Homo sapiens: one gene and its partner. The protein of the gene in region 1 purifies or fractionates together with the protein of each later gene. This does not show direct contact. Each region holds a gene or a part of one and is shown in the gene's direction. Other genes may lie near its edges.

Region 1 (3,500 bases):
ATACCATTTATTTTTAATAATAACACAAGGCATGGTTTTGCTTTAACCTTTATAGGTATTGGAGTTAATAACTAAACCATTGGAAAACTGTTACAGCCATCTTGTTCAGGAATTCACCAAGGGAATCCAAACATTATTTCTCTCTTTGATTGGTTTGAAGGTATTTTTCTTAAATTTTTTATCTTATTACTGTTATCTGAGACAATAGAGGTTAAAAAGTTATGCAATAACTTTATATATGCAACTGTGTAGATTTTATACTAATTTTTTATTTAATAATTTTTTCTTTTAATTTTTTTCTTTTTAATTTTGTTTTCTCATCCCCTTCAGTGATTAATGTAAATAATTTTTAAAAGATCATGGAATGGTTAGGTGCAGTAGCTCACACCTGTGATCCCACCTCTTAGGGAGGCTGAGACAGGAGGATCGTTTGAGCCCAGGAGTTCAAGACCAGCCTGGGCAACATAGCAAGACCCCATCTCAAAAAAAAAAAGATCACTGAATCCTAATGCTTGGCAAGTGGTTGGCACTTAATAAATACTTGAATTAATGAAATTGGCTTTTTTTTTTCTTAGAGATGGGGTCTTGCTATGTTGGTTAGATTGGTCTTGAACTCTTGTCCTCAACAGTCCTCCCACCTTAGCCTCCCAAAGTGCTAGGATTATAGGCATGAGCCACTGCGCCTGGCCTGTTTTGTTTGTTTGTTTGTTTGTTTTTTCTTTAATCTGGGACATGGTGATGAAATTAACTTTGGAACTGAGCGTGGGTGAACTTCCAAGTTGGGGCATCAGTGGAGAATCTGGATTTGAGAAGCCAGAAGCAGAGGCTGGCCCAGTGGGTTTCAATTACTATGTCAAAAACTTTTTCAGGGAGGAATAGAAAGATAACATGATGGTAGATAGAGGGATCAAGTAAAGGTTCCCCTGCCCCCCTGCACTCTTCCACCCCCAGTGTTAACTCTAATCATTTAGGTAGGAAACAGTACAAAAACAAAGTACATTAATAATCCAAAAACCAAGTATCAGTTCTTAAATATCTTAAAAGTATAATTTTAGCTTAATTGAATACTATATTAATAATGATTTTTATTAAAGTGGGAAGAAGCAATAGAAAATGTCTGTGCTCCATTATATTTTTCTTACCCCTTATATTGGTTTAATATGAAATTACGACTTAAATTTTCCAGTTGAAATAGCATCAGAATTGTAAGAGAGAGAAATATACTTATTGATTGACTATATTTTAGTATAACATGCTGATTTCATTGAAATTGGCTAATAAAAATTATTCTAATTCAGAGTCAGCTCTACATCTGAATACTAAATGGAGGGTTAAGTATTCCTTATGATTGCCATTGTAAGTTATAAATAGTGAATAACAGTGAAAGAACAAGAAATGGAGATAGGAATGAGAGAGACAAAAATAGGTAGAGATCAACTATTTTTAGGTAACATTTTAGGCAAAATATTGTCTGACGCTGTTTTAGTGGAAACTTGTATTTTTTTTTTCAGTTCTTTTTTTAATTTATTTTGTTTTTTGTTTTTTTTTTATTATACTTTAAGTTCTAGGGTACATGTGCACAATGTGCAGGTTTGTTACATATGTATACATGTGCCATGTTGGTGTGCTGCACCCAGAAACTGTTGTATTTTCCTTTTTTTTTTTTTAATGCAACTTTTAGAGCTAAAGGATGTTTTTACAGTTGGGTGGAATGCAGTGCAGGGAAGATCCCTAAAGGAGGCTGAGTGAGAATTAGTGAAAATTGGTTGGGGAGTAAATAGCACAGTTCTGGAGATATTGTGAAAAATTATTTAAAGATCTATCCAAAGGAGTTTTGGAATGAAAAATGAGTACATGTTTTCATAAAAAGCATGAATATAATAACTATCATCCCCCTAAATTTTTTGTTAATTTTTAATTGCCATTATAAATTTATATATGCAACTGTGTAGATTTAATACTAATTTTTTATTTAAATAGCTTTGAGGTATGGAAATGAGTTATCTTGATTAATATGCATTCAAGGTGATGCCTTGAATTAAGGAAAATGCTCCAATGATATCCTGAATTGTTTCAGATTGCAACGAATCTTGATGACATCTATCATTTCATGAATGGTACATTTTTTGGTGTTCAGCAAAAGGTTTTATTGAAAGAAAAAAGTCTCTGGGAAATAACTGTTGAATCACTTAGATACCTGACAGAAAAAGGACTCCTACAAAAAGACACTATTTATAAGTCTGAAGAAGAGGTCCAATATAATTTTCATATTACAAAGTTGGGACGTGCTTCATTTAAGGGTAAGAGTTTACCTAAATCTTATTGATCATAGGAAACACATTGGAAAAAATGAAAATTAAATTATACTTTCTTTAAGCTGGGCACAGTGGCTCACGCCTGTAATCCCAACACTCTGGGAGGCCAAGGGGAGCGGATCACTTGAGGTTGGGAGTTTGAGACCAGCCTGGCCAATATAGTAAAACCCTGTCTCTACTAAAATACAAAAAAAATTAGCCAGGCATGGTGATACATGCCTGTAGTCCCAGCTACTCGGGAGGCTGAGGCACAGGAATTGTTTGAACCTGGGAGGCAGAGGTTGCAGTGAGTCGAGATCACACCACTGCACTCCAGGCTGGGCAACAGAGCCGAGACTCCATCTCAAAAATAAAAAAATAAAAAATTATACTTTCTTTAAGTTGTATTTATAATTTTATATTAATTACATTAATCTTATTTTATAAGCTGATAACTCCTTCAACTTTCAAAAGTTGAAAAATGTTTTGAATTATAAGTACTGCAGAAGTATATAGAGAATAAGGTAGGCATCCCTCCTTCATGCTTCCCTCCTAGCAACCATACAAATCTTAATATTCTACCAAGAATAACAATTTGGTGTATATCTTTCCAGACCTTTACTGTACATTTCATTTCAGTGCATAATATGTACATATGTACAGTTTTAAGTTTTTGTCTTTAAACAAATAATCATTTATATTATTCTGAAACTTTTTATAAATTAAAAAAATTTTTTTTCTTTTTTTAAATATGGAGGCAAAATCTCGCTATGTTTGCCAGGGTGGTCTCAAACTTCTCACCTAAAGTAATCCTCCTGCCTCCCAAAGTGCTGAGATTACAGGCATGAGACAACACATTTGGCCTGCAACTTGCTTTTTTTCCTGAATATAATGTCTTAGAGATTGTTTCATGACAGTGAATAAAGTGTTGTGGGGGTTGTTTTGGTTGGTTTGTTTGTTTGCTTGTTTTTGACAGGGTCTTGCTCTGCTGCCGAGGCCAAAATGCAGTGGCGCAATCTCAGCTCGCTGCAACCTTCGTCTCCTGGGCTCAAATGATTCTCCCACCTCAGCCCCGCAAGTAGCTGGGACTACAGGGGCATGTCACCATGCCTGACTAATTTTTGTATTTTTAGTGGAGATGGGGTTTCACGATGGTGCCCAGGCTGAGGCTTTTTTTTAATGAAAAATAATACATGTCTGTTGTTA
Region 2 (3,500 bases), on another chromosome or scaffold:
ACCTCGTCTCTACTAAAAATACAAAATTAGCCAGGCGTGGTGGTGCATGCCTGTAATCCTAGCTACTCGGGAGGCTGAGGCAGGAGAATTGCTTGAACCTGAGAGGTGGAGGTTGTGGTGAGCCGAGATCACGCCATTGCACTCCATCCTGGGCAACAAGAGTGAAACTCCGTTTCAAAAAAAAAAAAAGTTCAACACTATTAACTATTAGGGAAATGCAAATTAAAAACACAGTGAGCTATTATTTCATACCTATCAGAAAGACTAAAATAAAAAAATAATGATAATACCAAATGCTGATGAAGATGTGGAGACACTGGACTACTCATATATACATTGTTAGCGGATATGTAAAATGGCATAGCCACTCTGGAAAATAGTTTGGTAGTTTCTTATAAAATTAATAATGCATTTACCATACCACCCAGCAATTGTATTCTTGGGCATTTATCCCAACGTTGTAAAAACTTGGGTTTATACAAAAACCTGTAAAAAATGCTTATAGCAGTTTTATTTATAGTAGCCCCAAAGTGGAAACAACCAAATGCCCTTCAATGGATGAATGGTTAAATAAACTGTGGTACATCCATACCATGGAATACTTTTTAGCAGTAAAAAGGAATGAACTATCCATATATGCAATAACTGGGATGGATCTCAAGGGAATGATGCTGAGTAAAAAAGCCAATCGCAGGGCCAGGCACGGTGGCTCATGTCTGTAATCCCCGCACTTTGGGAGGCTGTGTTGGGCGGATCACTTGAGGTCAGGAGTTCCAGACCAGTCTGCCCAAAATGGCAAAACCCCGTCTCTACTAAAAATACAAAAATTATCCAGGTGTGGTGGTGGGCGCCTGTAATCCCAGGTACTCGGGAGGCTGAGACAGGAGAACTGCTTGAACCTGGGAGGTGGAGGTTGCAATGAGCTGAGATTGCACCACTGCACTCCAGCCTGGGCGACAGAGCGAGACTCCGTCTCAAAAAAAAAAAAAAAAGAAAAGAAAAAAAGCCAATCACAAAGGTTACACAGTGTATAATTCTATGTACATAACTTTGTTCTTGAAATAACATAATAGAGATTAGTGGTTGCCAGGGATTCGGGATTAGGGGTGAATGGGAGGAATGTGGCTATAAAAGGGTAGCAGGAGGAAGACTTATAGTGATGGAAATGTTCTGTATCTTGATTATAGTAGTCGTGTAAATCTACATATGTGATAAAATGGCATAGGACTAGACACATCAACACACGTGCTTGAATGCTAGGAACACTGGTGAAATCTGAATAAGCTCTGTGGATAGTACCAACATCAGTTTGCTACTTGTGTGATATACTATAGTCCTTTTTTTTTTTTTTTTTTTTTTTTTTAAAGAGAAAAGGGTCTTGCTATGTTGCCTGGGCTAGACTTGAACTCCTGGACTCAAGTGATCCTCCCACCTTAGCCTCCCAAGTAACTGAGACTACAGGCCCCTGGCTAGTACAATACATTTTGTAGTACAGTTGTTATTATTAAGGTAAACCAGGTGAAGGGTTCATGGACTTTTTGCAACTTCCTGGGAATCTATAATTATCTCAAAGTTGTTTTTTCTTGTTGTTGTTGTTGTTGTTTGTTTTGTTTTTTTGAGACAGAGTCTTGCTCTGTCACCAGGCTGGAGTGCAGTGGCGTGATCTCGGCTCACTGTAACCTCCACCTCCTGGGTTCAAGCGATTCTCCTGCCTCAGCCTCCTGAGTAGCTAGGACTACAGGCGTGTGCCACCATCAAAGTTTAAAAAAAGCGACAAATTTTGGGAAACGCTATCAAGGAAACCCACAAACAGCTGGGCGTGGTGACTCACGCCTATAATTGCAGCACTCTGGGAGGCCGAGGTGGGTGGATCGCTTGAGGTCAGGAGTTTGAGACCAGGCTGGCCAACATGGTGAAACCCCGTCTCTAATTAAAAAAACTAGTCGGGTATGGTGGCGGGCACCTGTAGTCCCAGCTACTCGGGAGGCTGAGGCAGGAAAATCACTTGAGCCTGGGAGGTGGAGGTTGCAGTGAGTAGAGATCACGCCACTGCACTCCAGCACTCCGGCCTGGACAACAAAGAGAGACTCCGTCTCAAAAAAAAAAAAAAAAAAAAAAAAAAAGGAAACCCACAGGGCCTGAGATGAAAAATGAAGGGAGAACCTTCTGATGGGGTGGCAGAGGCCTCTCTGGAGAGCTGATCTTTAAGAGTGGAGGGATGAAGAGAGACCAGAGAAGGCACATTTGGGCATTCCCTCCTTACCAGAAGAAAACACCAGGAGAAGCCTCCTGGCCAGTGATGTTCAAAGACAGAACCAGTGCTTGAAAGAAATGTCTTACTTTTCTTCTTGGTACCTTTTCCCCTGTCTTCCTCCTAACCTCTTGTGTTGATTTTCTTCTCTTCTGCCATCAGTCTTGATAAACTGCTTGATGCTGGTCTCTATACTGGAGAAGTGACTGAAATTGTAGGAGGCCCAGGTAGCGGCAAAACTCAGGTACATGTGAGGCCAGCAGTCAGGAGGATTTAGGGGTGAGGGTGGTAGATGCATAGCCCAGGGTCCCTGGGGGAGCTTCAGCGTACTAATGGGTTCAGAGCCCAACAGAGAGAAGATGGGTAATAAGGAATGGGGTCGGGACTCAGCCCATTTGTGTTGCTGGAATCTGGGCAAGGTTTGGTGGGGAGCTCCCATCTGGACCCTCTCTGAAGTGTCAAGTTCATCCAATGCCCCCACCCCCAGGTATGTCTCTGTATGGCAGCAAATGTGGCCCATGGCCTGCAGCAAAACGTCCTATATGTAGATTCCAATGGAGGGCTGACAGCTTCCCGCCTCCTCCAGCTGCTTCAGGCTAAAACCCAGGATGAGGAGGAACAGGTAAGGGCAGGATGCTGGGTTCCATTGAGATTCTGACACAGGAAAACCCCATTATCCCTTAACATTGTAAGAATTTGGGTTGAATAGTCATTCCTTGCCTTCAAACTTGCTGTTCTATTAATACATCTCGTATTCCTTAAGCCACCCCTGTTGATGCCATCATCCCATTTGGGATGCTACTCACACTGATTCTTCCAGGAAACCCTCCCAACTCTTTGCATGCCCTAAACCAGGGCTGGCAAACACCAAGCTTTGTGTTTCCAGTCCATTTCTCACCTGTGAGAGACATCACTAATCAGTCATATCCCTCTTTCCTGCTGAGTTCTGAGTACTTTACAGCTCAGCACCCAGGCAGCCACCACTGTGACAACTGACCATTAGACAAAGCTCATTTGCCACCCTGGACCTGAGTCCTTGCATCCAGGTGCCTCTTCCTTCTCAGCCTTACCTTGACCCCCCTACTCCCTCTTATCCAAAGTCCTTGCTTTTCTTTTCCACCGCTTCAGGCAGAAGCTCTCCGGAGGATCCAGGTGGTGCATGCATTTGACATCTTCCAGATGCTGGATGTGCTGCAGGAGCTCCGAGGCACTGTGGCCCAGCAGGTGAGCCTGCTGTTCTGCCCCTCCT

The links. Proteins that work in one complex are often made in the same cells at the same time.
Region 2: the proteins of HELQ (region 1) and RAD51D purify together in Homo sapiens (affinity purification with mass spectrometry; one study listed by BioGRID and IntAct). This does not show direct contact.

What each region holds. Positions count from the first base shown.
Region 1 is NC_000004.12:83,428,324-83,431,823, reverse strand, and holds part of HELQ (helicase POLQ-like), read left to right. Parts: intron 1-55; coding exon 56-160; intron 161-2,077; coding exon 2,078-2,300; intron 2,301-3,500. UniProt on the Homo sapiens protein: Single-stranded 3'-5' DNA helicase that plays a key role in homology-driven double-strand break (DSB) repair.
Region 2 is NC_000017.11:35,106,361-35,109,860, reverse strand, and holds part of RAD51D (DNA repair protein RAD51 homolog 4), read left to right. Parts: intron 1-2,413; coding exon 2,414-2,495; intron 2,496-2,738; coding exon 2,739-2,873; intron 2,874-3,379; coding exon 3,380-3,475; intron 3,476-3,500. UniProt on the Homo sapiens protein: Involved in the homologous recombination repair (HRR) pathway of double-stranded DNA breaks arising during DNA replication or induced by DNA-damaging agents. Bind to single-stranded DNA (ssDNA) and has DNA-dependent ATPase activity.